Linked DNA regions of Homo sapiens: all the other regions are linked to region 1. Evidence: fine-mapped expression QTL. A gene starts in region 1. Each other region holds a variant in brackets. All regions are shown on one strand. Distances are from middle to middle. Region 1 holds the start of COQ2 (coenzyme Q2, polyprenyltransferase). Region 2 has its middle 25 kb from the start of COQ2. Region 3 overlaps HPSE (heparanase). Region 4 has its middle 370 kb from the start of GPAT3. Region 5 overlaps HPSE (heparanase). Region 6 holds the start of LOC105377313 (a long non-coding RNA gene).

Region 1 (5,478 bases):
CAGTAGGCTTTTATGCTTTGATAGCTGATTGTTATAACTTAGTGCTCTAATCCCAAATAGGTCGTGCATAAATCTAGAATACCAAAAGCAAGGCCTAATTCGGGTCTTGTACGGGCAAAAGTGGAGTAAATGTACCTAGGCCTTTGACTACATCTCCATACACTGCAATGGCAAATGTCATCATCTAGATTGGCTGGAGTTCATCCTTCACTTCTTCCTCCACGCTATCCAGCTTCTTCAGATATGTTCTTGTCTAGTCTCGTTTCCCATTTTCCACACCCACTTGGTGTTCCAGGTCAGGCTCGTATTCTTAGTGTTCTAACACTCCACCCTTGGGTCTTTGCAAAAGTACTTCCCGCACTAAGATCTCTTCCCTCCTCTGCAAAATCAACTTGTCCTTTGGAGTATAATTTCTTCTCGAAACTTTCCAGCAAGGGATCCACAGTAATTTCTCTTTTTCCTGTAGCACTTGCTTTTGTATCACTCATATTTGATCCATATTTTCCTAGCTCACCAAATAGTCTTTTTCAACTAGACCAGAGTTCCTTGAAAGCAAAGGGTTTCCATAGCTTTTTCTATCTCTATGGCCGGACAACGTAGTAGGAACTTATTAATTCACTTAACACTACTGGAGAAGCCAATCAATCAACAAGCGCATAAGGTTAGTTAGTGGTGAGTGCTATTAAGAAAAATTGCGGATAAAGCGATAGAAAGTGAGGTTGGTAGGTGTTAATTAAGATAGGAAGGTCAGGAAAATCTTTCTGTCGGGGGCGATTGTAAGCTGACAGGCAGTCCGTAAGCGCTGTCCCTGCTGCGTTCAAATGAATTAAATCTTTGCCTTATGGGTGATGCAGGTAAAAGAGCTCCGACTCAGCATCAAAACACAGAGTTCTTCTGGTCTGGCTCTGACGAGGAGCCTTAGTTTCCTCAGCGTCTTAACTGTCTTAAGGATTGTCTTTGTGGGCCTTACAAGATTGCGGGGAGGATCAAACATTCTAATAAATGAAGGAGGGCCACGAGAACGGAACCTTCCGCTTGAGTCACCATTTAAACAAGTGTTTGTGGAATGAGAATTATCTTGCCCGCTTCAGGTGCTCAGGATGCAGACAGACGTGAAACTGGCGGGTCCTTTAGGAGACTGTCCCGACTGCGTGTCCTGAGGTGACTCGCCCCAGGGCGCACGGCAGCCGGCAGCCAAGCTCAAGCTTTCAGGCTCTCATTTCAAAGTGTCCCGAGGTGATTCGCCCCAGGGCGCACGGCACCCGGCAGCCAAGCCCAAGCTTTCAGGTTCTCATTTCCATCACGCCCCGGCCGGCCGCCGCGGACAGCTCCGCGGAGCCGACTCGGAGGCTGCTACTTGCAAATTCCCGGGCTGCCCGCCCGCCCGCACTCACCAATGGGCTTGTCCAACCGCATGAGGCGCAAGTACGGCTGCAGGGGGCGGGGCGCAGAGTCCACCACCGCCGCCGCGGACAAACTGAGCTGGCGCCCGCGCGGCTCGGGACAGGCGGGGGGCTGCAAGTCACCACCGTGGGGCGCGCCTGCCGCACGCGCCAGGGCGAAGGAGCGGCCCCGCCAGCCCGGCAGCCACGCCAGTGCCACAGCCCGCAGGCCCCGCGCGAACCCCGCGGCTCGCGAGCCCAGCATGGCGCTGGTGAGGCCGGGACGAGCTCGGATTGACGTCATTCCCCGGCAGGCATGCGCAGTGGCACCCGCAGGATGCAATCCTAGTCTGCCAGGCTGGGCGGCGGTGTGGGCAGAACCTTTCCTCATCCTTACTTGTGAAATTGGGGTCATCGTGGTCGCTTACTCTAGGGAGGAATACTTAATGAAAAAGGGATTTCTATTGGCAAAAGGCAAAAAAATTACAATAAATTTAGTTGTAATTTTTTACAACTCGATCTTGATTGACTTTGTGGTTCCATTATCGGGCAACACTCAGAACGGGGTCTCTGAGGAAACAAACAAAAAATAGAATCGGGCAACACCTTATTCTGTAAAATAGAATAAGTGTTCCAAAGAGTCGAGCGGAGGAAGTTGGCTTTATAGACAGAAAAAGGGCTGAAGAAAGCAGAAGCAGAGAACAAAAAGCGGATTGGTCACTTCAAATTACTTTCATTGCGAGGCGGGGACAGGGAAACAACAACAGAGAAATAACGGATTGGTTAACATTAGGTTACACCAGGTTAAGGACTAAAACAGGAAACTTAATTGTCATGACGATTGCATTTTGAAATGGCCTGGTTGGAAAATTGGCTGTTGTCTCTCTTTCCTGACTTCTCAGAATGTCAGATACAACTTAGTTTTAGTTTGGTGACTTGGAACTTTAGCATGGGTGACTCTTGATTCTTAGTCTGATCTGTTGGGACCTAGTGCAGGAACTTAGTTCAAAACAATGGCCCCCTATAATTTAACCCTATTATCAGCTTTCTCCATAAAATGAAAAGGATAGTGTTTATTCATATGGAACAGTTGTACCAGGAAAAAAAAAAAAAAGCTTTGAAAAACCTACTGAATCCAAAAGAAGAATTTGCGTACACGTTTAGCCATAAAAAAAAAAAAGGGCACCAAGTGGCCACATACAAGACTGTAAATTAAAATCGCATTCAGGGTTAAGGGATGTTCATTACACAAGTGAAAATTTTAAATTTGACAGCCCTTCAAAGGAGTTTTTGTAATCAGTAGACAACCAGCATGTGTGATGCTAAGAACCTGAAGCTGAAAAGTCTGGTCAGCAGAGTCTTGCTCTGTCATCCAGGCTGGAGACCAGTGGAGGGATCATGGCTCACTGCAGCCTCCACCTCTTGGGCTCAATCGATCCTCCCATCTCAGCATTCTAAATATCTGGGACCACAGACACGAGCCACCGTGGCTGGCTAATTTTTAATTTTTCATAGAGAGGAGGTCTCACTATATTGCCCAGGTTGGTCTTGAACAGCTGGGCTAAAGAGATCCTCCTGCCTCAGATGGTCAGTACTCTTATTCATAAGCAACTCTGTATATCGCTGTGTGCCAGGCACTTTACATGTATCAACTCATTTAACCTCTCACTGAGTAACCCTAGGCAAGTCACTCATCTGGATTTTAATATTCTAGGAAGTTGACTTAGTCTTTAGGCTCCTTTCTGTAAAACATGTACAATGATTCTGTGACTTCTTGCATGGCTCAAGTACAGCAAGTTGGATGCCTGGCCACTTTGGTGCAATGAGGCAGGGGGTACCTAGCCTTTCTCCTGCCTGCAAAGAATAAAGGCCAGCAGGCAATTTAGTAACACTCCTAGTTGTTAGATTGGAGATGATTTAGATCTGACTCAAACCTGAAAAGGGTGTAATATCAGTCATGTATTGCATCCATGACTTTCCAATATAGGTCCAAACTCTTTGTTTAAAAAAATATATTAAGAATTTCAAGATGGCAACAGCAGGACATTAAACCAAGTACAAGGTCCTTCTTAGCGTAGGCCCTGGGTGACTGCACATGTACCCATGATGCTGACCCTGCCCAGAGGTGATTCAATCCTAAGATATTTGGTCCAATTAAAGTGCACAGGAAACTGAGATGGGTACCCACATGTCACTCTGCTAATTTGTAGGACAAGAGAACAGTCACATAGAGTAGAGCCCTAACTTTCAGGAGTCTCCTCTAGACTAATGCCAAGGCACAGTATGCCCTTGGGAAAGCCATTTAACTGCTGCAAACTCTTCAGAAAAGGAAGGGACTAGGCTTTCTCTAAAAGGGCCTGTAAGGCTCCGATTCCTCATTTTGTTTTTTGTTTTTTTTGAAGTGACTTTCTTTTTTTTTAAAATTTTATTATTATTATACTTTAAGTTTTAGGGTACATGTACACAACGCCAATTCCTCATTTTGGATTGGGCAGGAACTCATTTTGTTTTAAACCTATTACCCACAGGAACTGAAATGGTTAATTTTACATGTCAATTTGGCTAGGCCATAGTGCCAAAACATTTGGTCAAAAATTATTCTGGCCAGGCACTGTGGCTCACACCTGTGATCCCAACACTTGAGAGACCCAGGTGAGAGAATTGCTTGAGCCCAGGAACTCAGGACCAGTCTAGGCAACATAGTGAGACCTCATCTCTACTAAAAATTCAAAAATTAGCTGAGAATAATGGCATATGCCTGTGGTCTCAGCTACTTGGGAGGCTGAAGTGGGAGGATTGCTTGAGCCCCCGAGGTTGAGGCTTTGTGAGCCATGGTCATGCCACTGCACTCCAGCCTGGGTGACAGAGTGAGACCCTGTCTCAAAAAAACAAATAATAAACCTCTCATCTTTTTTATGGTGGCCAGAAGAATGAATTACAATGACTGACAAGGCTTTGGAAACAAGACAACCCCTCCCCACATCACAAGGACTGAAAAAGGTAATCAAATAGATTTTGCAGTATGTTCGAAGGTGGTAAGTGGTATGGAGAAAAGAAGAGTAACAGGGAAAAGTAGGGACAGGCTGTATGTATACTTAAATATGGTAATTGGGGTGGTAGGACAGCCCTGATCTCACTTTCTCAAAGACTTGAAGGAGATAAGGGAGTAGCTATGAGAGATCTGAGGGAAGAATATCACTAGATACTCTTAGAGGGATGTCTAGTGCAAGGGCCCTAAGATGGGAGCAAGCTTGAAGTGTTTTCTTAATAAGAGCAAGGAGGCCAGTGTGGATAGAGTAGAGTGAGCAAAAGGGAGAGAGATCAGGGATGAGAGCAGAGAGGACTAGGGACCAGGTTGTGTGGGGTCTTACATACCGTGGTAAGGACTTTGGCTTTTCTCTAAGTGAAATAAGAGGGAGCCATTGGAGGATTGTGAACAGAACAGAGACATGACCTGACTTCTATTTTATTTTATTTTCCTCTCATAGTTCTTGTCTCATACTGACTTATATTTTAAATAATTACTCTCAATACTGGGTTGAGAGTAAACTGTAGGCAAGCAGTGAGATAAGTAGGGATATTAGTTAAGAGGCTTATGAAGCTCAGGTTGGTAGCTTACACTTGTCATCTCAACATTTTGGGAAGCTGAGGCAGGATTGCTTGAGCCCAGGAGTTCAAGACCAGTCTGTGCAACAAAGTGAGACCTCATCGCTACAAAAATCTTTAAAAAAATTAGCTGGGCTTGGTGGTGCACTCCTTTAGTCCCAGCTGCTCAGGAGGCTGAGGTAGGAGGATCACTTGAGCCCGAGCGGTCAAGGTTGCAGTGCACACCACTGCATTCTGGCCTAGGTGACAGAGCAAGACCCTGTCTCAAAAAAACTAGACAAGTAAACCATTATTCTGGTTGTTTCTATGAAGGTGTGATATGGTTTGGCTGTGTCCCCATCCAAATCTCATTTTGAATTGTAGCCTCCATAAATTCCCATCTGTCATGGGAGGGACCCAGTGGGAGGTAATTGAATCATGGGGACAGGTCTTTCCCATGCTGTTCTTAAGATAGTGAACAAGTCTCACAAGATCTGATGGTTTTATAAAG
Region 2 (5,478 bases), 26 kb before region 1:
AAAAGCTTTATATACGTGATTCATTCTACAAATATTTTTTAAGAATTTACTATGTGCTAGGCAGTATTCCAGACACTGGAAATAAAGTATGATGATTCAAACAGAAAATATCTGTGCCCTCATGAAGTTAGGTTCTTGTTAGTGAGGACACACAACAAAGAAAATAAGTAAAACAAATTACAGTCATGTGCTACACAGCAATGTTATAGTCAATGATGGACCACATATAGGACAATGGTTCCATAAGATTATATTGTATTTTCACTGTACCTTTTCTGTGTTTCTTTCTTTTTTTTTTTTTTTAGACAAGTTCTCACTCTGTTGCCCAAACTGGAGTGCAGTGGCGCGATCACTGCAGCCTCTACCTCTTGTGTTCAAGTAATCCTCCCACTTCAGCCTCCCAAGTAGCTGGGACTACAGCTATGTGCCACCACACCCGGCTAATTTTTGTATTTTTTGTAGAGATGGGGTTTAGTCATGTTGCCTGGGCTGGTCTTGAACTTCTGGGTTCAAGTGATCCTCCTGCCCTGGCCTCCCAAAGTGGTGGGATTACAGGTGTGAGCCACCACACCTAGCCCTTTTCTGTGTTTAAATATGTTTAGATTCACAAATACTTACCATTGTGTTACAATTACCTACAGCATGAAGTACAGTATGCTACGCAGGTTTGTAGCCTAGGGGCAATAGACTATATACCACATAGCCTAGGTGTGTAGTAGGCTAGACAATCTAGGTTTGTGTACATGAACTCTATAATGTCTGCACAGGGATGAAATTGGCTAATGATGCATTTCTCAGAAAGTATCTCCATCTGTAAGTGACATATGACTGTATATCATATGTTTTAATATGGAGAAAAAGCAGTGAGAGAGAAAAAGAAGTTTGTGTAATGGTGTGTGTTAAGTCTTAGAAAATGAAGACAATGGTTTCACTGAATCGGTGACTTTTGGGCAAATACTGAAGGAGGTGAGGAAGTATCCATGGCAACATCTAGGAAAGCATTCCAGGAACCCCAACGAGGCCAGAAGGCTGCAGCGGCAGAAGGCCTGCAGCAGCACTGGCGAGGGAGGGAGTGGAAGAAGAGCCAGAAGGCAGCAGGAGCCCGCTCACTGAGGGTCCTTCAGCCATGCTAAGGACTTTGGCTTTACACTGGGAGAAATGGGGAGGTATGGGGAGGTTCTGAGTTAGAGGAATGACATACGCTGGCTTTGGTTGTAGCAGGATCGGCCTGGCTGCTATGGTGAGGACACATGAAAGGGGGCAAGGGAGAAGGAGGGAGACCAGTGAGGAGGCTAATGTGTTAATCCAGCGGGGAGAAGATAGGGACTTGGGCCAGGGTGGCAGCTGTGGAGGTGGTAGGAAAAGATTAGATTCTGCATGTATTTTGAAGGTAGAACCAATATGCTTTTCTAATGTCTTGAATATGGAATGTGGGAAAAAGGAGTCATGGTTGATTCCAAGGTTTTGGTCAGAGCAAAAGGAAAAGGAGATGCCATTAATGAGATGGCAAGAAGGGTGGGAGGAGGAGGTTTGAGGCTGAGATCAGGAGTTCAGTTTTGAACATATTGAACTGGAGGTGCCTATTTGGCATTCATGTTGAAATATCAAGTAGGCAGTTCAATATTCAATTCTGCCAAGTGCAAGTTCAAAAGGGAAGTTTAGGCTGGAGGTACACATTTGGGAATAATCAGTATACAGATGACATTTAAAGTCAGGAGTTTAGATGAGATCATTTTCTCATGCAATTCTTAAAACACCAGCATGAGGTAGATATTATTTTAATTCCCATTTTAGATATAAAGAGATAGGCTGGAGAGGTTTAAATAGTTCACTCTAAGTCATTCAGTTAGTAACTGTAGGGACTCCAATGTTCATTCTTATCTCTAAGAGATAGTTTTCAACTTGGGCTCTGTGACAATCCTAAAAGAAAGGAAGGTTCAGTTTAAGGGGACTGTCTCTGATTTCCATCTGTACGTATTTGTTGGGGTTTTATGTACGATTTTATTT[GAA/G]AAAAAAAAAAAAAAAAAAAGTATTTATGCTGAGTGAGGTTGACTCACGTCTCTAATCCCAGCAACTTGGGAGGCTGAGACAGGAGGACTGCTTGAGCCTAGGAGTTCAAGACCAGCCTGGGCAACAAAGCAAGACCCTGTCTCTACAAAAAGAAAGAAAGAAAGAGAGAGAGGCCAGGTGCAGTGGCTCATGCCTGTAATCCCAGCACTTTGGGAGGCCAAGGTGGGCAGATCACTTGAGGTCAGGAGGTGGAGACCAGACTGGCCAACATGGTGAAACCCCGTCTCTACTAAAAATACAAAAATTAGCCAGGCATGGTGGCACGTGCCTGTAATCCCAGCTACTGATTCTGAGCTTTTTGAAGATAGAAACTCTAATTAATCTCTGTGTTTGCAGCAACTAGCCTGTGCCTGCACACAGATGTTCAACAAATGTTTGGACTGTCTGAATAATACATATTAATTGGAACAACTATAAAAATGTTAAATGTTACCTTCTCCATGGAAGAGATAGTTCAGTATAAAGCATGAAATCCAAAATCCCATCACAATTAATAACACGATAATCTTGTAAAATGAGAGCACAAGTCTGTCAGATATCAGATCTTGGGGATATAATCAATGAATGAGGCAGCGTACATCAACAACAACAATAACCAAATGGGCAAAGACATGAAGGCAACTCACACAGAAGAAATAAAAATGCTCTATAAACACTTTGAAAAAGATCAACTACTTTAGTAATCACAGAGTTGTGAGTGAAACCACATATTGTTCTTGCCTATGTGTCAAAGTTTTAAAAATAGTATCCTTTCATATTGGCCAAGGTCTGAGAAAGAGGCTCTCATGCACTGCTATTAGCAATGTGTAGCTTTCTGTAGGGTAATTTGAGAAAATGAATCCAAATCCTTTAAAATGTGCCTACCACCATACTCCACCCTCCATACCTACCCTCCAATCCCTGGAAATGTACATGCACATACAAAGACATTCTGCTTCTAGGATTTTTCCTACAGAAATATTCACAGATATGCCCAATGATACAAATCTATTCATGGCCGTACTGCTTGTGAGAAGGAAAAAATGTAAATATTAAAATCCATGATAGGATTAATTAAATTGCAGTACATACATATGATAAAAACCCATGCAGCCAAAAAACATCAATATATTGAAAGAAGCATTAATGACATGGGAAAATATTAAGTGAAAAAAGTAGATTTTACAAAAGAAGTATAGTATAACCTCTGCCTCCCAGGTTCAAGCAATTCTCATGCCTCCCTCACCCTCCTGAGTAGCTGGGATTGATTATAGGTGTGTGCTACCAAGCCTGGCTAATTTTTTTTGTATTTTTAGTAGAGATGGGGTTTCACCATGTTGGCCAGGCTGGTCTCGAACTCCTGACCTCAAGTGATCCACCTGCCTTGGCCTCCCAAAGTGCTGGGATTACAGGCATGAGCCACCATTCCTGGCCTGATTAATTTCTAAAGTTAAAAATTAGTTACTGTATGCCAGCACCTATATTAAATGTGTTGCATAGTCTCTAAATTATACATTAACCCTAAGAAATAGGTGTTACCATTGATACAGGGCAAATGAGCCCCAAAGTGGAGCTTAGTCCACGAGGGTTCTTGGCTTTGCCCAGGAAAGAAGGGCAAAGGGCAAGCCAGAGATAGAATAAAACAGCTTTATCGAAAAGGCAGTGTTACGCTCCAGTGTTGTTAAGAGTTGTGACTGCTCCTACAGAGCAAGGCCACCTGGTGGGCAGACAGCAGCATTACTTATATTCTTATATAGTTTTGATGATATGTACATGAAAATGTTTTTGTAACGTTACCTCACATAGTCAACTTTTTATGTTGTTGAACAGCATTAATAATTTCTTTTTCTTTTTTTTTTTTTGAGACAGCGTCTTGGTCTGTCACCCAGGCTGGAGTTCAGTGGCGCGATCTCAGCTCACTGCAAGCTCCACCTCCCAGGTTCACGCCATTCTCCTGCCTCAGACTCCCAAGTAGCTGGGACTACAGGCGCCCGCCACCATGCCTGGCTATTTTTTTGTATTTTTAGTAGAGACGGGGTTTCGCAGTGTTAGCCAGGATGGTCTCGATCTCCTGACCTCGTGATCCGCCCGCCTCGGCCTCCCAAAGTGCTAGGATTACAGGTGTGAGCCACCGTGACTGGCCAGCATTAATAATTTCTAATGGTTGCACCTAACACCAGGTCTGACAAGTAACTCTAATGTTAGTTCACCCGATGTACAAAAATTACAAATGTTTACTGAGTGCTTACAGTGTGGTATACTGGGGACATTTCAATGAATAAGACAAACAAGGTCCCACTGATCATGAAATCTCCATTCTCGCAAGGGAAGACAGAGAATTTTTAAATCCATGAGAAAGGTATTAGGATTATACCTATTTGAGTATTTGAGCCACCGAGAGGTCAGGGAACTTTCCCAAGAGCAACCAACTGGTAGGCAGGTGTTACAGCAGATTCCAACCCTGGCAAGCTGTCGTCATGATAGCGTTCTTAGTTCCTGCTCCACTGGCACCCAGAGGGTGGAGGGTGTACTTTCAGTTGGAGGAAACATTAGGGTGAGGCCAGATTATAAAAATCAGGTAGAGGCATTAAACAATTTAGCAAAGAAATCCGGGAAGAGGGAGAGGCAGCCCTTGTGATATGGTATATTGGGGATATTTCAATGAATAAGACAAACAAGGTCCCACTTACCATGAAATCTCCATTCGCAGGGGAAGACAGAAAATTTTGAAATGCATGAGAAAGGTATTATGATTATCCCCGAGTGAGCCACAGAGAGGTCAGGGAACTTGCCCAAGATCACCCAACTGATAGGTGTTAAAGCAGATTCCAACCCTGGCAAGCTGTGGCTGTGACTGGCATTCACAGCTCCTGCTCCACTGGCACCCACCAAGTGCTCTGGGAATTCAGAGGACAGGTCAGTTAGAGCTGGAATAGTTGTATTCATTTACTTTTTAGACCCTGTAGCTCCCATCCTATCTCCACCCCCATCATGAAATTGTGGTAGATAATTGTCCACAGTTTAAAAAGTTCTTTCACATGATTTCTATTGAAAAACTCACAGTGACTTTGAAGCAGAAGAGTAGGGCAAGGGCCCTCCTCACTGAATAAATTCCCACGGCAATGCTGGTCATTTCAACTATCACAAACTCCTGGCAATGCTCATTTCAACTCTCCTAGGGACTGACACTCCTGATCTAGATGGATGACTGCTGTGTGTCTTTCCAACTCGAGTTGTCTTAAGTCTGTGATTCTAGAGACTAATAATCTACTTCATCGTTTTTTCTTTTCCAAAAATCTGTTCCTTACCCATTTATATTATTTTTTCAGCGTTTTCTACTGGGAGAAGGGAGGAAAAATGAAAAAGAACTAAAATAATTCAATTATGTTTAAGCAGCTTTTTGAGAATAAGCTTTTTGAGTATGTATGA
Region 3 (5,478 bases), 36 kb after region 1:
GAGCAGACTGAAATCGCATATATTTATTTAGTTAGCTATTTATGTGACTAAAGCAGGATAATTAAGTTCTGGTTATGAGGTAGGAGAGCAGAGAAAAGGTATATTCTGTAACACATGTCAAATTTGCCGGCTCATGAATTACCACAAAGAAAACAACCAAGGGCAGGTTTCCTAAGAAATATTGAACATACACTGAACATGGATATGTTGGACATAGCTACAAGTTATTTAACAATTCAAAGGGCTCCTCAGAAGCTTGAAATTACTGGCCGGGTGCAGTGGCTCACACCTGTAATCCCAGCACTTTGGGAGGCTGAGATGGGCGAATCACTTGAGGTCAGGAGTTCGAGACCAGCCTGGCCAAATGGTGAAACCTCGTCTCTACTAAAATACAGCTACTCAGGAGGCTGAGGCAGGAGAATCACTTCAACCCACGAGGCGGAGGTTGCAGTGAGCCGAGATCACGTCACTGCACTCCAGCCTGGGTGACACTGGGCGACAAAGCGAGACACTGTCTAAAAAAAAAAAAAAAAAAAAAAGCTGGAAATTACCAGAGAACTCTAATGAAGAAAACATAGTGCAGTTCTCTTAAGGTTCACTTTCAAAATCCATAGCAATTTGTTTTACATGGACTGTATCTGCAGTGTGGTGTTTTCCTCTTGCCATCATGGGAGGTAGGATGGGTGGGAACCGTTGACTTTTTTTCGCTTTGAATTTGGTACCATCAGAGCTTCTGGGACCACAACATGTGCACTTGAAAAAATCCACCCTGGTCAGGCACAGTGGCTCACGCTTGTAATTCCAGCTCTTTGGGAGGCCAAGGCAGATGGATAGCTTGAGCTCAGGAGTTTGAGACTAGCCTGGACAACATAGTAAAACCCTGCCTCTACTAAAAATACGAAAACTTAGCTGGGCGTGGTGGTGTGTGCCTGTGGTCCCAGCTACTCGGGAGACCGAGGTGGGAGGATGCCTTGAGCCTGGGAGGCAGAGGCTGCAGTGAGCCAAGATCCCGCCATTGCACTCCAGCCTGGGCGACAGAGCCAGACCCTGTCTCAAAAAAAAAAAAAAGAAAAAAGAAAAATCCACACCATCCTGTCAGGCAGACCATTTCTTTATCACAAGACAGCAGGGTTGCCGGGTGCTGGCTGCCAGGGCCGGCTGACTGGCTGATGACTTCCTTTCTGGAAAGCTGCACACTGACTCGCTGGCGGCTGGTGCCTCATCCATCCCTGGGCTCACAGAGGATGTTTCAGAGGAACTTGCATAACCCCAGTTTCCCCCACCGACCATCCCCCTAGACACAGGATGAAGAAAACTGATGAGCAAAGGACAGTTTCCTGTCTACATTTATGAGATCTTTTGGACACAAATGACTGGTGGGAAAGGGCCAAGTCTAAATAGAAACTAGGTTGGGTGTGGTGGCTATGCCTATAATCCCAATACTTTGGGACGCCAAGGCAGGGGGATCACTTGAGTGCAGGAGTTTGAGATCAGCCTGGATAACATAGAAAGACTGTCTCTACAAAAAATAAAAAAATTAGCTGGGTGTGGTGACATGCACCTGTGGTCCCAGCTACTCAGGAGGCTAAGGTGGGAAGATTGCTTGAGCCCAAGAGGTCAAGGCTGCAGTGGGCCATGCTTGTGCCACTGCACTCCAGCCTGGGCAACAGAGTGGGACTCTGTCTAAAAAAACGCCCCCAAAACAAAAAACAAACCCATAAACAACTCCAACCTGGTATTCAAAGATAACCCATCTGTCTTTTTCTATTTTCTCTGATTACTATTCTGTCAATTTAGCCCCAATTACTGATGAATTGTTCTAAATACTTCATAACTGGATAAAATAAACAGAAGGAAAAGATATAATATATGAAATAATCAAATATTCCTCATAATGAATATATACGTTATATACACATTATTATAATTCAGTGGTGTATACAATATTTTCAGTATTTTTTTCTCTTTAAATTATTAAAAAATAGAGACAACGTCTCTCTATGTTGCCCAGGCTGGTCCCGAACTCCTGGGCTCAAGTGATCCTCCTGCCTCAGCCTCCCAAAGTGTTGGGATTACAGGTGTGAGTCACTGCGCCCATCCTAGTAATTGTTAAGATACGATTTAACTTCCATTTGATGTCTGATAGCACTTCTGAAAGACAGGACAAATTTTCATGGCCCCCTAGGGCAGGTTTCTCAGGTGAAGGCCACAGCCTTTCAATATCAGAATCCCCTGACAAGCTTGCTAAAATCAGAATCTAACGTTGGAGCCCAGAAGTCCACAGATCTCGTTCACCCATATTCTATATTTAGAATAAATATCCTTCAATCTATCATTGTGTCTTTGGCTAGAAATGCTCTTTAGTTTGACGCGATTCTACCCACTTGCTCCCTCCAAGCAGTTCTATCCTTCAGCTACAATCACTGTTTTATTAATATTTACTGTACAATGAGCTCTCAGTTATATCCAGGACGCCTTTTTTTTTTTTTTTTTTTTGTGAGGCCTCACACTGAACATGACAAACATCATGATAAGGAAACCTGCCCACTGCCTCCTCCTCTTGTTCAGATTCCTCCACAGGTCAGATGAGGGGAGAGGAAGTTAATCTCATTAATTGTTAGGTGTGAGAAATAACAGTTTTCTCAAAGCATTCTCATGACGGACTGACGTTAATTAAAATATAGAGTGAATCTTTAAAAATTTTCACCCTGGTTGACTTGAGATTGCCAGTAACTTCTCTCTTCAAAGGTTGATTCCTTCTTGGGATCGAAAATTAGGAAGTCTGTCTTGGTGCCACCAAACCTCAGGTACGCAGGAGACAAGCCTCTGGCCAAGGTACGAAGCTTTGGAGAACTGTTAGGAAGACAAGCAAGAAAGTATAACTATTTTTTCCAAGACAATCTAGTCAAACATTCTTACTTCCTTCTTTCCTGGTGGACCTATTTCTTAACATTTCCCTGTGCAGGACTTAGAGGAGGAAATCACATTGTTTTGTTTTTGAGACAGAATCTTGCTCTGTTT[T/C]CCAGGCTGGAGTGCAGTGGCGCGATCTCACTTCACTGCAACTTCTGCTTGCCGGGTTGAAGCAGTTCTGCTTCTGCCTCCTGGGTAGCTGAGATTACAGGCAGTATTGTTTAATTTTTATTTGTTTTCTTATTGGGCATGATAGAAAGGGAATCATTGTTTAAAAGAGGAAGCATCTCAATCTGAATCTAATTGAAGGACTGATCTTCTAGGAACCTGAGGGCAATTTGTAGCTCTAATTCTGGCAAGAGCTTGTTTGTGTGTGTGTGTGTGTGTGTGTGTGTGTGTGTGTGTGTGTGTGTGTGTTTGTGTGTGGAGGGATGGGGTCTTGCTATGTTGCCCAGGCTGGTCTCAAACTTCTGGCTTCAAGTGATGCTTCTGCCACAGCCTCCCAAAATGCTGAGATTACAGGCATGAGCCACTGTACCCAGCCAGGAGCTTATGTTTTAACTTGACAAGTAGGATGGTGTTCAACACTTAAAAAAAACTCATAGCCTTTTATGATGGATGGGGAGAAAGAAATGATAGAATAGAAACTAAGGGAAAGACAGCTCTGTGTCTGTCTGAAAAATAGATCGTCCGAAACTATGGGACAGTAAAAAGATCAGCGGTTACCAGGGGCTGGGGGTGGAAATGCAGAGAGGGAGGGATGAATAGGTGGAGAACAGGGGATTTGCAGGGCACTGAAAATACTCTGTATGTTACTATAATGGTGGATACATGTCATTATACATTTGCTCAAACCCATAGAATGTACACCGACAGTGAACCCTGCCGTGAACTATGGACTTTGGGTGATAATGATGTGTCAGTGTAGGTTCATCAACTAGAACAAACACCTCTCTGGTGGGGATGTTGATAATGAGGGAGGCTATGCATGTGTGTGGGCAGGGGGTTTATGGGAAATCTCTGTCCTTGCATTCAATTTTGCTGTGAACCTAAAACTGCTCTAAAAAATAAAGTCTATTTAAAACACACACACACACACACACACACACAATTTGGTGAATGACTTTTTAAAAAGTCTTCACACACCTGTCTTTCCAGAGAAGTTTATAAATGACTTAGGATCTCTTCTCCTCTTCTTAACTCCTGCCTCCCTTCACCATTCCCCACCAAGGAAAATCATTCTTTTGTATTTAAGTCAAATGACTTAGAATTATATAGTATTCTAATTCCCATCACTGACACCTCTAATTTGAACAATTCTAAATGCATATTCTGTCAAGCCAAAAATGCTCCAAATGGGTGCCTATCATGTGCTTAGAATGGTACCAAATGCTAGAAAATGGAATTAGAATGATCTATAATCCCTTCCCTCAAAAAGATGAGGATGTTCATAAATATTTACATGAGCAAAACTAAGAAAACAGAAGACCTGGGTAAGAGAAACACCTGTCATACATTTCTGAAGTATCAAACATGCAATGCTGGCCACACTGCTTCCTGGAATGCTCTGAAAACATATTAAACCAATGCTAGCAACTCTTGGAATGGCCTAATTAGTTTGTCTACATGTAGGTTTATTTCAAGTCAGGAAATTATTCCTGGAGCACTGATTGCCAATACTTCTTCTTCTTCTTTTTTTTTTTTTTTTTTTTTTTTTGAGACAGGATTTCATTCTCATCATCCAGGCTGGAGTACGATGGCGTGATCTCAGGCCATTGCAGCCTCCACCTCCTGGGCTCTAGCAATTCGCCCACTTCACCCTCCCAAAGTGTTGGGATTATAGGCGTGAACCACCACACCTGGCCAAATTGCCAGTACCTCTTAATATCCTAGGAATTAAAGATCTGATCTAAAATTTAAAGTTTTAAGATGTGCTCATGCTTAATTAAATATGTATAATGCTATGTAAAATTTTCAAAGTATTTCTTTATGCTTAGGAAATAAACTAAAAGATAGAAATTGAACAAAATGTAAGTCTCTTGTGTTAAAACTTCAGTGATTCCTCCTCACCATATTTTTGTTTGTAACTTGGGAGTCCCTAAAAATACGGTGGGCTCTGACACTAGGAACCTCAGAATAAAGTGAGATTTTAAAATGTTATCAACCCGAATTCACCCTGACTGAAATACCTGACAGCCCCAAAGAGCTCTAGGAAGGATGGCATCTGTCATGGCATCCTCAAAACCACGGCTAAATAAATGGAAATGCTAATCTGAACTAAGTAAGGAAGAAGCAGCTATTTTCAGTTTGGTACAAACCCAAATAAAAATAAATTGTAGGGAGGGGAAAACAGAGGATGCACTATTGTTTAATGGGTACAGAGTTTCAGTTTGGGAAGACGAAGAAGTTCTGAGATAGATAGTGGTGATATTTGCACAACAATGTGAGTGTGGTGAATGCACCAAACTGCATACCTTAAAATGGCAAGATTTTATGTTTTGCGCATTTTGCCACAATAAAATAAATAAATAGTACTCATAGTGTAATTTTAACAATAAAAGAATATAT
Region 4 (5,478 bases), 620 kb after region 1:
AGTCCTCTACAGATCTCGTTGAATTTGTTCTCTTATCGAGCATTGGTAAAGGAATGCAGATACATGAGGAGAAGGAGGTGCTTCGGAGAAGCAGAGAAACCACTGTCTTCCTGAAGCCTCAGAAGTATGGATGGATGATGTTAGTATACACCACGGTGTGGTGATGTCATGGCTTCCTATTCACTTCTACTGCCTTTGCCCTTCCTAACATCGATGTCTCTATTAAACACTCAATTAAGTATGCTGAGAGAAAACTTTCACTTTTTAAGCAGCCTATATGGGCATGGGTTTACTTTTTACCATCTCTGAAAATTGACATATGGCTAAATCATTTCACCTCTGGTGGCAAAGATATATTGGGCTACATGCTCCTCTAATGTGAGAAAGGCAAATCCAATTTAATAGAGGAGGGAAAGAAAGGAATGGTGATAAATTCCTACATAAGTGGCTCATGTTGGCATGAGATTATCTACTATCCTCTTATTTGTCAAGTTAAAAAATTTGAGATTCAGGGAGTTGGAGTCACTTTCCACCACACAGTTTGTGGCAGAATCAAGACTCAAGTTTAGGTCTTCAGAACAAAACTCAGTACATCATGTCCTTGTTGTCTTCTGGGCTCCATTTCTGAGACTCACCAATAGCTTCAAGACCAAGGTAGACAATTTGCTATTTCATACGTTACTTAGAAAATGTCATCAATCCTTTTGTGTGGGGATAAGTGGAAATGTCAAACAATCTTAAATTGGCAGACTTTCCCATAATTACACAAGTTAAAGTGATCATGACCTAATGAAAATACTCCTTGGGTCCTATCAGTTGATTTTGAGACTCAGTAATCAATTACATATGCTGGTGATTTTGCTTTCTAGTGGCCAGATATATCTGATTCTGTTTATTTAGTGGTCTTAGTGTAGGAAGATGAATCTGAATCTGGGATTGCCATTTTGAATTTTTCCTCTAACCCTCACTCTAGATTTTACAAGGGGGATTTTCTTTCCTTTTTTGGATTGCAGATGTGAGTGTGTTAAAGTTTCTAGGGACAGAAAAGATAAGTGGCTGCTGCTTTGTTTTCTCTTGCTTCCTCTATATATGAAACCATTCCAATAGATCTGCAGGAAGAGATTTAGTTGCAGATGGCAGAGGTCAGTGTCTTGTGTATTCAATGTAGTCAATAATAAAGTCAGGACTTATGCTACCTGAATGTTAATAAGGAAGCACAAGGACCTTGGAAAGTCATTATGTCTGGTCATTTGCTTCATAATATTACTCCAACAGGCTCAGGAGGCCAATGCAAGGAGATTTTTAAACAAGTAACAAGAAAAGGCCAGAAAAATAAGGAAACAATTGAAATGTTGCAGAAATTGTAAGGTTCATGTAATATACTACAGCTCGGCAGAAGGAGAATTTTAAAATGTAGTTTATGTGTAGCAGAGGGAATAGTATTATTTCTTATTGAAGGAAATTTGGTCCTTATCCAAATGTACATGTTATGTTTTTCTTGTCTAAATACTATGATTCCTTCTTAATATGTATAATGGGCTTCTACAGGCACTAATTACAGGTACTTCAAATGAAGTTAGTTACATAAAACTAGTAACTTTCTTCATGGGAGAATATTTATGCATCACTGCATTTGCATAGGTAGGGAGGAAGAAACTTAGATTGAGTGACTGGTATAGGAAAAGTAAATAAATGTAAACCAGCATCTGTCTCTTATTCTCTGTGTTTTCATCTCAAATTTCATTTCTTCCCAGTATGAAGATTAACACTGTATCTATGCATTTAGTCCAGGCTTGGGTTTTACCCTTTGTTTCTTTTCTAATTCTTCTTTCTTTATCCTCAATGGACATTTATTTCCATAAAGCTAAGAAGGAAGCCACAGTGGTGCAAGCAAAACACACACACACACACACACACACACACACACACACACACACACACACACTAAACTTGTCATTATACAATGGTAAGGACCAGAGAAGTACTATCCATTGCAGCGTTTGCAAGGAGAAAACATCCCAGTTCCTCAGATGAGGCAGGAGCACAGCATGATATTTTGTTCCTACTAATTTGTAAGTCCTAGGAGATCTTCACTTTATCAAAGGCTGCCTATCACCTAATGTGAAAAAAGAATCATAAAATGTTAGATTTTAAAGTAACTTAATATTTCTACTACCTCCTCTTGTTTTTATATATCTATCCATCCATGCATCCATCCATTTATTCAATGTTTCTAGAACCTCTGTACTAGAACTGCAGATTTGAAAATGCAGCTCTTGAGAACCGCATTGTCTAGTGAGAGTACAGACATAACAACGTTAGAAATATGGTAACTCCTATGTCAATAGCTACACATACAAAGTGGTCTAGAAGCACAGAGGAAAAAGTAGCTTAAACTCAGAGTTCCGAGAAGTGACATTTGAAGTAGATTACAAAGGGTAATGGGTTAAAGGCATGAGAATAAGGACAATTAAGGAAATCATAAAGGGAGAGATATGGAGACATGTTTGGATAATGATGAACAGAAGTGAGAGGCTTGGCAGTTGTGTGGAATGGAAGTGGAGGCTGAAAATGTTCTCCTGAGCCACATGGTGCAGGCCTTGTTTGCCTGGCTATGGTGAAGATAACCTGAAGACTAGAGCCATTGAGTGTTTCATGATGTCTTGCAGAAGGTAATGGTGGAACCATGATGAGACTTAAGGTCTTATCTTCCATAAAGTTCTCTTTAACAAAGGATCAAATCTTGTTACCTCATTTTAGCAGAAAGGGTGGAAATAGTCAAACTCAAGTTCCTTCTATTCTTCTAGAAAATCCATGCCTAAAATTCCCACACACATGCACATAGATATAAAAAAAATCCAAAACAAGTGTAGAGCTTAATGAATTATTTTGAGCCAATGATCATTGTAACCACTGTTCAGGCCAAGAAACAGAATATTTCCAGTCACTACAGAAGTTCCTTTAGGTACCTGATCCTAATTACAATGTCCTCTCTTACTTTCTGTTAGTCCCTATTTTTACTTACTTGAATTTCCTTATGGTTTATT[A/G]CTCAAGTATCAGTCCTTGGATACTACAGTTTAATCTTGCCCATTCCTTTTTAACTTGACGTCTCTTTTAAGTCCTGTTTATCCTATAGGCCCCCTTCACCCTTTCACTTTCTCATAACTTACCTGTTGAAGGACTTGGGTTACTTAGCTGCAGAGTTACCTGCAGTCTAGATTTTGCTAATGGCACACTCAAGGGACAATTTAATAACTTACTCTACCACTTTGATTTCCTAAACGTTGTCAGCTGCATCTCAGGCTTGATCCCTTTGGTTTTGTGTCACTTCACTGAGAGACATATCAAATCTGGTTTTTGTTTCTTTGTGATGTCAGCGGCTGTTAAGTCTCAATACTTAAATGTATTCCTTCACTGGGGGCTAAAAAAGAGTGTTTTTCTATCATTTTGTTTTTTCTTATTCGCTGAAGAAGATTTTAAAGGAGGTGAGTCCCCTTATCTATCATTTGTTTATCTAGTGACAGACTGCTGTCTTTTTACTTAATTTAAGATCAATTGGTTCATATGAACTCATGGATTTCAAACATAATTTAAATGTATTTCTTGGTTTTCAATCTGTTGGACTGCTTATCCTTATTCGAGTTTACATTGTTTCATCTTTGGCCAGTGAGATCCTGAGGAATTGATTTCTGAGACCTTTTGCCATGACCCTAGTAATCTTACATGGACTCTTTGCTATCCATTTGATATGTCAAGATGTTTCAGGGTCATCTTGTACATTTTCTGATGCTGACCTGAAAACAGCTATATTTTGAAAAGCTCTGCTGCTTGATTGTTTTTTTTTATAGAGATGGTTTTTCAAAACCACAGCCTAAGTACGAGAGAGCCTTATTTCTACTTGGTTGATCATTGTTTCTTGGCCTTTTCAGTGGACAGAGCTAGGACACACACATACGCACTTTATAATATGAATAATATATGCATTATATATTGTATTATGTAAATACAAAAATATAAAATATTACTGAAATAAATATTTTTAGTGTAAACACACAAAATACTTATAAATTCATACCAATATTTCCAATTTATATTTAAGCTTAGTGTGCTTTAATTTATCTGGATCTATATTATATCCTTGTCTTCTGAATTCTGCACCAAGAATTTTAGTTCTCAAGGGCACAGGAGTAATAGAATTAGGAAACCCCATAATTATTTGTTTTCCTTTTGTATACATACAATAGGGTGAGAACAACAATACTAATACTACCATTGCCAATTCTAAAAAAACTGAAAACAGGTTATCATTTGTTTTATATATGTTAGTCCTGTACTCCCCACAGTTTTTAATAATTTTACTGGATTTGTATTATTAGATCACATAGCCATTACATACTATAATTTCTCCCGTTTAATCCTCACTTAATTCTATAAATTGCTACATACTTAATGTTTTTCACCAGTCTCTACTGATCTTGGTTGTTTGAAGCTTGTTCTGTAGTAGATTCCTTGAGAAGTACTCGTGAGGAGAATAGAAACTGAACTATTATCGCTTGCTGTCTGTCTCCTGTATATTTGAATGTTAGTTTTTCTGAATATAAAATATTTGGTGCACTTTTTTTCTTGAGTGTTTTAAATCAGTTATTCAGTTTTCTTTTGGGATAAACTGTTGTTGAAAAGTCTAATGACAGACTAATAATCCAATCAATTATGTAAGTCATATGTTCTTTAGTCCAGATTCCAAAAGAATTTTTTCTTTAAATTCCTGTTCTTTTACAAGAATATTTATTTCTTGCTTTTTGTTATTCTGGGTTTATATTTTCAAGTATATATTGTACATTTTCAATATGTAGTTTCAAGTCTTTTTTATTTCAGAAATTTGTTTTTGAATTATATTCTTGAGAATTTGTTTTAGTGCTTATCAATACTGGTTTTCTTCTTCAGGTATTCATATTATCCGTGTGTTGGGTCTTCTTAACTGCTTCAATATTTCTCTCTTTTCCCACATCATTTTCATCTCTTTCTTCATTTGCTTTTGATGTTTAATTTTTTTCTCCTTTTTTCTTCTATTTATTTCAAAGTATTGTTATTTACTCATTTTCTTTTAATTAAGTCTTCACTTTTAAAATAATTGTTTCTTAATTTCTAATTATTTCTTGAGTGTTATCTCAGTCAATTATTCTAATTTTGATTTATGTTACTGTCATATTGTATTACTTTCTTAATGACTTTAAATCATTTTGAAGTATTATGTTACAGTTTTGATTGCTTTTTGAAATTTTTTTTCTGGCATGCTTTTCTTTTCTATAGTTGTGCTATGCAATATAGTACCAACTAGCCTCATATAGCTATTTACATTTTAATTAGTTAAAATTTAATAAAGTTAAAATTTGGTTCCCTGGGCTCATTAGTCAATAGTCACATGTGTCTAGGAGCCACTATGTTGGATGGCACAGATATAGAACATTTCCATCACCA
Region 5 (5,478 bases), 43 kb after region 1:
GGAAAAGTCTGTCCAAAGACCAGAGATAGAAGAGAAGCTGGCACCATTGACGAGCAGAAGGGTGTGGTTGGTGCCTAGAGATGGGGGCAGAGAGGCTGGGAGAGAACAGAATGGAGAAGCAAATAGGGCCACATCACGGAGGGCCCCGTAAGCCACATGTCCAGGAGTGCCAACTTTATATGAGGGCAACGGTGAGCCATGGAAGGATCTGAAGCAGCTGGAGTGACCTCACCAGACTAAGAACAAGACTCTGGTCATGTTAACGTAGACAAAACGTGATGGACTGAGGTAAGGTAACAGCTCAGAGATGGAGAGAGATGGATAAATTCAAGACACACTTAGAGGTAGAAATAATAGATTTGAGTTTTTAAAATAACTTTTTTTAAATGAGACAGGTTTCACCTTGTTGGCCAGGCTGGTCTTGAACTCCTGGCCTCAAATGATCCACCTGCCTCAGCCTCCCAAAGTGCTGGGATTATAGGCATGAGCTATTGTACCTGGCCTAGATTTGATTATTAATTGGATGTTGAGGAGGAGTCAAGGATTACTCCTGGGAAGCTCCTTGGAAGATGGTAATATCATTTGCTGGATGAGGAACAGGTGATAGACTGAAGATGGGGAGGAACAGGGAGGAGAAGGGGCACTAAGTTTTGTAGAATTTGAGATACCAATGGAACACCAAAAAACATACTTCCATCCATCAGGCGCTTCGCCCTGTGTGTCTGGAACTCAGGAGACACATACAGGCCGGGAATATAGACAGGCGAGTCCTCAGTAGAAATGTCAGGGACTGGCAACCCCTAGCTCACAGGTCACAAGGTATGGCCCTAAAACCAAGATGAGGAACTTCCTCAGAGAGAACCACTCCAGGCTGGCCCTGTTCCACTGCCTTCAGCCAGGCACTGATTCTGTTCCTTGGCATTTTGATTGGGTTTGATGATAGAGGAACCTCATTTAGATTCCTCTAGCTGTATTTGTAAGCAGTCGCGGCTGGGCAAGAGACTGGGAAGTGGGAGGAAACGAGCACCTGGAAAAGTTGCTGTGGCATCACATGACGGGCATCTGTGAGTGACCTGGGTCACAGCCTGGTCCTTAGAGGTACAAACTGTACCACCTTGGGTCACTCTCCATCACACTGCGCTGCCTTCATTTTCTTCATAGCATTCATCACTCTCTGAAATCAACTTCCTTTTTCATTTCCTTGGCTTACTCTCTATTGCAGCCCCCATCTCTGCTGCAAGCTCCCTGAGAGCAGGGACCTGACTGACTTATCAGAATCTACCCGATACCTAGATAAGTACTTGGCACACCGCTGGTGTTTAATAAATACTTAAGTGAATGAATGAGCAAGGCCCGCCTGATGTAAGGGTAAGTCGCTGCCAGACAAAGACTTTCCTGAACAAAATGAAAACCCAATACTGTTTGGGTTTACCACTTGGACACTGCCAAGTACAAGAAATCACATTTCAAAGTTTTGGTATTAAGGACCTTTTTGTTTGTCTCCTTTGCAATGAAATATTTTCTTGTTTTGAGAAAATAATATTGACGCCCTCTGACAAAAACTAGATTTAATATGGGTGCAAAACATGCCATAAAACTAAAACTGATCAAAGGTACAGTATTTCAACCATATACAAGAAAAATAAAGGAAAAATAATCCCACCACCACAGTGACATGGAAATAACAGATGAATGCATAAAAGAAGCTTCAGCTATTCTATTTCTAGAGCAGTTTGTTAAGGAAAAAAAGGGGGCCTGCAGGTGTTTTTATTTTACCTTTTGTACAAAAATAAGTTACTTCTCTCTGACACAAAAGCAGAGGTGTGCTGGAGTTGGCTGTACCACGTTGTTGGCCTGTGAAAGCCAAATGTTAAATTTGGAGAAAATTTGTGAGCCAGTTGTTAAACTGTTGGCAGTTTGGAATTGGCCATGGAGGGAGTATTTACACCACAGAAATCAGCAAAAACCATCAACCAGTCTCCCCTCTTCCCAGAGAGCCAGTTGTTAAACAGTTTCCAGCACAGTACTGCATGAGCAGTAATTTAAGTAATTTCTGGAAGTGGGTGAGACCACCCAGGGGAATATGTGAAGTGAAAAGAAGGCCTAGGTCAGAAGTCTGAAGAACACCAATGTTTAAGACAAACTAGAGAGAGAGAGATGGAGAGGAATTGTTAGAAAACACCCCCCAACAAGAAAGGCGACAGACCTAAAGGGGTAAGAAAGTGCTTCCATTGTCAACCTTGCCAAATGCCTCCAAGAGACTGTATTAGTTTGTTAGGGCTGCAGTCGCAGAGTACTGCAAACTAATTGGTTTGAACAACAGAAATGTATTGTCTTACAGTTTTGAAAAGCCGAAACGTTGAATTCAAGGTAGTGGCAGGGCCATACTCCCTCTCTAGGCGCAGGAAAGGATTTGTTCCAGGTCTTTCTCCTAAGTTCCCATAGCTTTTTGACTCCAACTCCATAACTCCTGTCATCACATGGTATTCTCCCTATGTGCGTGTCTGTCTCCAAATTTCTCCTTGTTATAAGGACATCAGTCATATTAGATAAGCAGCCCATCACATTCCAGTATGACCTCATCCTAACTAATAACGTCTGCAATGACCCTATTCCCAAATAAAGTCACATTCTGAGGTACTGGGGGTTAGGACTTCTAATATGGATTTCGGGGTAACCTCATTCAACCCATAACAAAGACCAAATAAGATAAAGTGTTTATTAGGTTTCCCAACAAAGGAAGGCCATTGATGATGTCGGAGAGATTGATTTTAGTGACACAATGATGGTGCCATCATGAGGGCAGAACAGGAAGAACAGGC[T/TGCC]GCCGAGGGGAGGGAAGAAACGGGGTGGTTTCTGCAGAGGCATGTGCGAGGAGGTAATTGAGATGGGAAAGGCTTGGGGAAAGGCTTGGGGAAAGGCTTGAGGAAGAAGCCAGTAAAATGGGAGGAGTTGAAGATACAGGAGAGGGAAGAGGTGACTGATAGAGCGAAGTCCTTGGGGGTTGGGGAGGGGACGGGATTCAGGGCAGAAATGGAAGAAGCAGACTGAGATCAGAGAAAGGAGGAAAGCTGGACTTAGGCATGACATGTCTGCAGATTTGATGACAGGAGGAAAAGGAAAAGGAAGTAATTGCTCATTTTCTTTGGGAAGCAGAAGTATGGTCATGTGCTAAGAATGATAAGGTGAAGGTGGAGTCAGAGATTTTTAAAAAGTAGAGAATGTGAAAGGCAGAGAAATGGAGAGTTAAGGGTAACACTAAGGGCCAGGGAAGTCTGGAAGCTAAAAAATGTTTGGTGCAACATCAGTCTGTGTGGCTGGGAGACTGTCCACTCCCTCCTCCCGCAAGAGCTCAATAGCCCAGCTATACAGGGTGGCCACTGAGACTGGAAATGAAGCATTAAAATGGCTTATTAATATACATTAAAATTAATAAGTAATATTTTTCCATTTCCAGGTTTTTGGGCCACCCTGTAGATTCCAAAGAGAGAAAATATGGTTGGACTAAACCAGGTTTAGTATTTTAGCAGGAAGAACAATGGAACAGGGATTTGGGGTTATTATTACAAGAGTGGTTCACATGATAAATTAAGAAGCTCAAATCAGATATGGAAGAAGTAGAGAGAGGAAGAAGCTGTTCAGTGGAGGTATTTAAAAATTGTTATGATGGGTGCTATGGAGTAGAAGAGCTATGGTCTGGCTCTCAGAAAAAAAGGTGCTCTGCTTTTTAGTATTTGCCAATTTCCATGGTAAATATTCTCACCATGGCTGATTTCCAGATACCCACAGGATGTCACTGAATACAGAGTTGAGATGAAATGCATACATTTCATGAGCTGGATAAGCTGGTTCTGTTACAACTTGAGTGTAACATTATCTGTTATAAAAAAATGTGAGTGAAGAAACTGAGACAGTTTATCTAGGTGACTTGAAGTCATCTAGGATGATGGTGAGACTAGGAAGTGGAGAGGAAACTGTGAGATCAGTGCCAGTCTTCAGTTAATAAGGGGGAGTAAGTAAGAGGGGGACAGAGTGCCGTAAGCAGGAGCACTGGATGAGAGCCAGATGTGGAGATGAGGAAAACACACTGAGTCATGGCATCACCCGTAATGCACATCAGGCTAGTCTACACTGAGCGTGTAGGGAAGCTACCCGCCTTCTTTCACTCAATTTCAAAATAACCCACTGAAGCAAATGGCATTATTATCGTCATTTTACAAACAAGGAACCTGAACAAAAGGAGGTAATTTGCCCAAGGTAACAAGTCAAAAGGGACTTGAACTATAGCAGTATGGAGTTCAAACTAGTGGGCTGTCATCCAGAAGCCAGACTGGAGAACAGGAAAAGAACTGGACTATGGGAGAATATGCAGCCATTACTCAAAAGGGCTACAGGGAAGACAGTGTCATCAGAGAATAGCCAAGTTGTAGCTTGGACAAGGAGGTAGAGGAGATATTCTGTGAGGAGGACAGAGCAGGTAACCCTGCAAAGGGCTCCAGGGCACAGTGGACAGGGTTAGTGGGGAAGGCAATAATAAGAGCTCAATCAGAGGGACAGCACTTCCCAGGAGTTAGGAGACATGAGGTGTGTGATTGTCCCCAGCCCTTTGTTTCCCTTTGGCTGTGAATATTTCTGCCATCAATAGGCACATGGGGAGTCTGCACCTCTTTCCAACACTGGTTATCAAAACGTGTGTTTAACATTGATAAGTAATTTTCTAAATGTGAAAAGCAACTCTGTCTATGAAGATGCAAGAATCTAATATTGAAAGTTTTTATCAGTAAATATTTATTGAATTGGCAAAAATGGATGAACTTTGCTGAAGGAAAATAAGCAAATTGCAATGAAAAGCAAGCATGGTTGCATTATCACTGAGATTGCTGTTCGTACCACTTTTGCTCTGCAGTATTTAGGATTTCTACCACCGACTCAGCACTATACTTTTTTTTACCGTGCATTAGTGAACTATGCTTGTATACGTGTCTTAATTGAAATGCAGATCTGTACTGTCCACTACCATAGCACTAGCTACATGTGGCTACTGAACGCTTGAAATATAGTTAATCTGAGGCCGGGTGCAGTGGCTCACGCCTGTAATCCCAACACTTTGGGAGGCCGAGGTGGGCATATCACCTGAGCTCAGGAGTTTGAGATTAGCCTGGCCAACATGGTGAAACCCTGTCTCTACTAAAAATACACAATTAGCCAGGCGTGGTGGTGCATGCCTCTAGTCCCAGCTACTTGGGAGACTGAGGCAGGAGAATAACTTGAACCCGGGAGGCGGAGGTTGCAGTGAGCCGAGGTAACGCCATTGTACTCTAGCTTGGGTGACAAGAGCAAAATTGTCTCGGAAAAAAAAAAGAAAGAAAGAAATATAGTCTGAGAAGTGCTGTAAATAATACACGCCAGATTATAGAATAGACTTGGTTTGAGAAAAGGAATAATAAATACCTCATTAATATTTTTATATTGATTACATGC
Region 6 (5,478 bases), 26 kb after region 1:
CAGAAAATATTCAGAAAAAAAATAACAAATTTTACTTTCTGCTTTTAGGTTAATTGCTGACCTTATTCTCCTTCTTACCTCTCCCACTCACCTGTTACTAAAAAAAGGTAGAAGTTCTACTAGGGAAAGACCAAGATGGAAGGGAGTTATGAGGAGGAGTCCATTCTATGCAAGTAACTAGAAATCAGTTACTCTGTCTTGAAAAAACACAGTGGCAAGTACATGTACTCCTGGGTTACTGGTTCTTTGGCAAGCAATTGGTTTTAGCTACTTATATGTTCCATGGGTTAATTGGCACTGTTCTTCTGTATAAAGTGATCTTTATAGAAACCACTACATTATTTAAAATAACTTTAAATTTTTTTTATTAATATTAAAATTGGAGTACAGTGCTACTTGAGACACTATTTGTTTCTTATTTGAACTGCAGTCAATTGGCAGTTAAATGAACTAACTTTTTGAATACTAGGTAATAAATAAAGCTAGCCTTACTTTCCTAGTATTAAGAATAGGAGACATACTTACTGATGCCATGTAACTGAATCAATCACTTCTCCACCAGCCTTCAGGAAGCTAGAAAAAAAATTTTATTATCACTCAGTCATATAATACATATATATGCACAATATACGCATGAGAGTTTTATTCCCTAGAAATGGGCTGGTTACTGCTTTAGGATCAGGTAAACACAAACTTCCTAATTTTGATAGCAAATTTTATCATAGGTGACATTTGCCTCAGATCCCTTGATATTCTGAACCCGTCAAAATTTCCTTTTTTTGGTAAATCATGTATTCAGGCAGCAGATTGTTTAATAACATGTGGACTATTGAGGATTGTCTACCAGAGAGAATCTTTTTTTTTTTTAAGAAAAGTGGTGGCTGGGTGTGGTGGCTCATGCCTGTAATCCTGGCACTCTGGGAGGCTGAGGTGGAAGGATGGCTTGAGCACAGGAATTCAAGAGACCAGCCTGGGCAACACAGGGAGACCCCATCTCTACAAAAAAATTTTTTTAAAGTAGCCAGGTGTGGTGATGTGCACCTGTAGTCCCAGCTATTTGTGGGACTGAGATGGGAGGATTGCTTGAGCCTGGGAGGTCGAAGTTGCAGTGAGCCATGATTGTACCACTGCACTCCAGTCTGGCTGACAGAGTGAGACTCTGTCTCAAAAGGAAAAAGAAGAAAAGTAAAGTGATTCTGCATCCTCTAGTTCCTACCTCTTCAGCATCTTAGCCGTCTTTCTTCGAGGCTGACCAACATCAGGACCATAGAGTTTTGCATTTTTGAAGGTGGACTTTCTTAGAAGTTTATGCAATTGAATAAAATCTTCTCCTAACTGCGACCCATTGATGAAAATATCAGCCTTCTTAAGGAAACTGTTAGGTTCTGAAAGACAGCAATTCTCAAAATATATATCGAGAAATGTTGTATTTAAAAGCAAACATATAGCAGTATTTAAAAGCAACAAAACATTTTCCAAATTACAAAAACTTGTAATTCAAAGTCAAGAAAAGTAAAACCAGGTCTGGCGCTATGGCTCATGCCTGTAATCCCAGCATTTTGGTAGGCTGAGACAGGAGGATCCCCTGAGGCCAGGAGTTTGAGACCACTCTGGGTAACATAGTAAAGCCCTGTTCCATGGGGAAAAAAAAAAATTAGCTAGATGTGGTGGTGCATGCCTGTAGTCTCAGCTTGGGAGGCTGAGGGAGAGGATCACTTGAGCCCAGAAGGTCGAGGCCATAGTGAGCCATGATCACGCAACCGCACTCCAGCCTGAGTGACAGAGCAAGCGTCTGTCTCAAAAAATAAAATAAATAAGTAAAGTAAAACTCAAAGTTATAAATAAGATACTCCAGAAAAACAAAACAAAAATTTTAACTGTATAACTGAGATATGAGGGTCTATTAAACAATTTGAAGTTAATAATGAGGGTAATAAACCAATGGATATGGATATCTGGGAACTAGACTATATTCCATATCTAATAACTTCATTTACTTTGGAAAAAAAGGTTTGAGACCGGGCACAGTGGCTCATGCCTATAATCCCAGCACTTTAGAAGGCCGAGGCAGGAGGATTACTTGAGGCCAGGAGATCGAGACAAGCCTGGGCAACACAACCAGACAAAAGAAAAAAAATTGGCTAGGCATAGTGTAGTCCTAGCTAATCAGGGGGCTGAGGTGTGAGAGATTGCATGAGCCCAGGAGTTGGAGGTTACATTGAGCTATGAACACGCCACTGCACTCCAGCCTGGGTAACAGAGCAAGATCTTGTCTGAAAAAAAAAAAAAAAAAAAAAAGTTTGAGCAGGAAGAAGACTTGTGCTTA[T/A]CCTATTACTACATTTCATTTCCCATTTAATCCTTATTTCCATTGGCTGATATGTGGAAAAAGCACTCTATGTTTTGAATAAATGTGGCGAATCATGAATACTTATAGTTAAAATTTACAAGTTCTTTGCAAAAAAAGAGTGAAGAAGGAGACAGTCAGGAGCTTGACCCACGTAGGATTCTATACTGGCAAGTTCTAGACCGTTTGGGCAGGTAATGAAGGTTGCAATGGGGTTACTGAGATTAACTGACACATTTGAGAAAATGAGAAAGGAAGGGATGAATAAAACAAACTGCTGACTTCCCAGTTTTGCTGAGTCCAGCTTGCCAAGCATAATAGGGTTAAGTGATTCTGAAAATCTCAAGGGAACTTTGGAGCTGGGAACGTTGCTGGCTCCAACTGGTTCTCACTTCAAATGTAACATAAACTGGGATTAGCAATAATAGGTTCTGGAATAAATACAGTAGGAGTTTCTGCCACATGCACTTCCAAAAGTTGCATTGTTGAGCACTTGCAAGAATGTGCCCAGGCAGAAGTATATTTGCTAATAATAAAAAGAGTGTTGGCCGGGCGCAGTGGCTCACGCCTGTAATCCCACCACTTTGGGACGCCGAGGCGGGCAGATCATGGGGTCAGGAGATAGAGACCATCCTGGCTAACACGGTGAAACCCCGTCTCTACTAAAAATACAAAAAAATTAGCCGGGCGTGGTGGCGGGTGCGTGTAGTCCCAGCTACTCGGGAGGCTGAGGCAGGAGAATGGCGTGAACCTGGGAGGTGGAGCTTGCAGTGAGCCGAGATGGCGCCACTGCACTCCAGCCTGGGCGACAGAGCGAGACTCCGTCTCAAAAAAAAAAAAAAAAAAGTGTCATAAGAAATAATGCTAGCCGGGCCTGGTGGCTCACGCCTGTAATCCCAGCACTTTGGGAGGCCGAGGAGGGCAGATCACGAGGTCAGGAGATCAAGACCATCCTGGCTAACACGGTGAAACCCCGTCTCTACTAAAAATGCAAAAAAAAAAAAAAAAAAAAAAAAAAAAAAATTAGCTGGGCGCGGTGGCGGGTGCCTGTAGTCCCAGCTACTCGGGAGGCTGAGGCAGGAGAATGGCGTGAATTTGGGAGGCAGAGCTTCAAGTGAGCCGAGGTGGCGCCACTGCACTCCAGCCTGGGCAGCAGTGCGAGACTCTGTCTCAAAAAAAAAAAAAAAAAAAAGAAAAAGAAAAGAAAAGAAATAATGCTAGTGGGGGATCTCCTTATTAATGAATTGTTCCCTGGGGTACTCACCATTGCCTAGTTCCCAAGAAATGTTATACCCCTTGGAAGAGCAGTAGTCCAGGAGCAACTGAGCATTAGAACTGTTCCACTGCAAATCTGCTGTTCTTAATAACGCATTTAGGCCAAAGATCAAGTCCAGTCCTGAGCAGTTTGCAAAAGTGTATAGCACATCTACAGAGCTTCCTAAAAGAAAAACGTCACAATTTAATGGTTAGATTGGCACCACAATGAAGGCCTCCAGATTCGCTTTTCATAATGAATAACTATTTCTGTTGTTAAACTGAAGAAATTCTAGTTCTAATAAATGATTATAATTATGTTTTTGAGACAACAAAATTGGACAAATTAAAAAAAATCAATCTGACTTCATTTGCTCCAGCTGTTGAATGAAATCCCATGGAAGATACCAGAAGCTCTGGTCTGACACTTAGGTTTTGTTCAAGTGACATCAGGAGAATTGGGGAAGCCACAATTTATAGCTCAGTGCTCCACATGCATAGCCAGACTGTCATTAGTTAGCATAAACCCCACTCTTCATAATCTAAATATCTCTAGTCACAAGTTCAGTTAAAAAATATTTTGATAATTTTAATTATATTTAAAACAATTTTTAAAAAAATTCCTGTTATGATTTATTAATTTAAAATGAATCAAATTTTACATTAAAAAATTGGCCTAGAGTTATAGGACTATGGTTTCCAAACTCTGTGCAAGGCAAGCTGGGGAGCACCAGTGAATGCATGGGTACAGCTACAGGATTTAGCAACTAAAAGTGCAGGGCACCTAGTTAAACTTGAACTTCATATAGACAATAAATAATGTTTAGTGTATGTCCTATGTAACCATTAAGAAATACTTCGCACAGGGGCCAGGTGCAGTGGCTCATGCCTGTCATCCTAGCACTTTGGGAGGCCGAGGCGGGCGGATCACTTGAGCCCAGGAGTTCAAGACCAGCCTGGGCAACATGGCAAAACCACATCTCTACAAAAAACACAAAAATTAGCCGGGCATGATGGTAAGCACCTGTAGTCCCAGCTAGCTACTTGGGAGGCTGAGGTGGGAGGATCACCTGAGCCCAGGGAGGTCAAGGCTGCAGTGAGCCATGATCATGCCATTGCACAGCAGCCTGGGCAACAGAATGAGATCCTGTCTCAAAAAAAAAAACAAAAAAACAAACAAAAAAAAAAGTAAAGAAAAGAAAAATAATTAACATGAAAAAAATTATTTATCTGAAATTCAACTCTAACCAGGCAGTGCTATTTACAGAGGCACTGTAGGATCTTTTAAGTTTGCAAGGAAAAAAACATCAACATCTATTGGACAGCATTACTATTGGACCTATTACTATTAGGTTGTGTAGACCTTACAATTTAATAATCAAAATACAGGTATTTTTTGTGGCCTAGGCATGCTTTAAAAAGTTTTCTGCGATATTAAGGTGCCATAAGTTTGGGAACTTCTGTACTCTGCTTTTTAAACCATTAGCTGTTCTATTACCACTTTTTGAGAGTGGCAACAATATAATTTTAAGTGTTGTCTTTAAATTGATTATCATATGCATAATAAGTCCTTCCAATTTTCATGTATATCTATAGTCGTTTGTTAAAGAGTAATTCATTCCTGAACTCTTGTAGTTAAAAAAGAAAGATCTCTATCTATCTGGCAAACTTACACCCTTTCTCCTTAAAAGTGGCTTTTTGTTTTGTTTCTAAGTCTTTGGCCTGAATTACTTGAATAACTATAGAATAATATTAAATATTAGCTATTTAAGCTGAGTGCAGTGGCTCATGCCTGTAATCCCAGCACTTTGGGAGGCTGAGGCAGGTGGATCACCTGAGGTCAAGAGTTCGAGACCAGCCTGCCCAATATGGTGAAACCC

Evidence for each region. PIP is the estimated chance that this variant, and not a neighbour inherited with it, causes the effect.
Region 2: its variant is fine-mapped to the expression of COQ2 in whole blood (INTERVAL, PIP above 0.99).
Region 3: its variant is fine-mapped to the expression of COQ2 in whole blood (TOPMed, PIP above 0.99).
Region 4: its variant is fine-mapped to the expression of COQ2 in T cells (TOPMed, PIP 0.99).
Region 5: its variant is fine-mapped to the expression of COQ2 in whole blood (INTERVAL, PIP 0.95).
Region 6: its variant is fine-mapped to the expression of COQ2 in whole blood (TOPMed, PIP above 0.99).

The regions. Positions count from the first base shown.
Region 1 is chr4:83,283,118-83,288,595 of GRCh38, forward strand. It overlaps COQ2 (coenzyme Q2, polyprenyltransferase), which reads right to left and starts at 1,681. Exons shown (of 7, transcript NM_001358921.2): 1 at 1,395-1,681. The coding sequence starts at 1,647. RefSeq lists enhancers at 1,084-1,323, 1,519-1,813 and a silencer at 1,384-1,713.
Region 2 is chr4:83,256,979-83,262,456 of GRCh38, forward strand. No RefSeq gene overlaps it. Among named protein-coding and RNA genes, the nearest start is that of COQ2, 25 kb to the right of the region's middle. The variant GAA/G (reference allele first, on the strand shown) is at 2,008.
Region 3 is chr4:83,319,512-83,324,989 of GRCh38, forward strand. It overlaps HPSE (heparanase), which reads right to left. Exons shown (of 12, transcript NM_001098540.3): 2 at 2,708-2,853. Among named protein-coding and RNA genes, the nearest start is that of HPSE, 13 kb to the right of the region's middle. RefSeq lists a silencer at 1,888-2,081 and an enhancer at 3,625-3,919. The variant T/C (reference allele first, on the strand shown) is at 3,022.
Region 4 is chr4:83,898,960-83,904,437 of GRCh38, forward strand. No RefSeq gene overlaps it. Among named protein-coding and RNA genes, the nearest start is that of GPAT3, 370 kb to the left of the region's middle. The variant A/G (reference allele first, on the strand shown) is at 3,048.
Region 5 is chr4:83,325,857-83,331,334 of GRCh38, forward strand. All of the region lies in intron 1 of HPSE (heparanase), which reads right to left. Among named protein-coding and RNA genes, the nearest start is that of HPSE, 6.3 kb to the right of the region's middle. The variant T/TGCC (reference allele first, on the strand shown) is at 2,823.
Region 6 is chr4:83,309,506-83,314,983 of GRCh38, forward strand. HPSE (heparanase) reads right to left here. Exons shown (of 12, transcript NM_001098540.3): 4 at 3,609-3,782; 5 at 1,217-1,385; 6 at 526-573. LOC105377313 (a long non-coding RNA gene) reads left to right here and starts at 4,589. Exons shown (of 3, transcript XR_938944.2): 1 at 4,589-4,614. The variant T/A (reference allele first, on the strand shown) is at 2,327.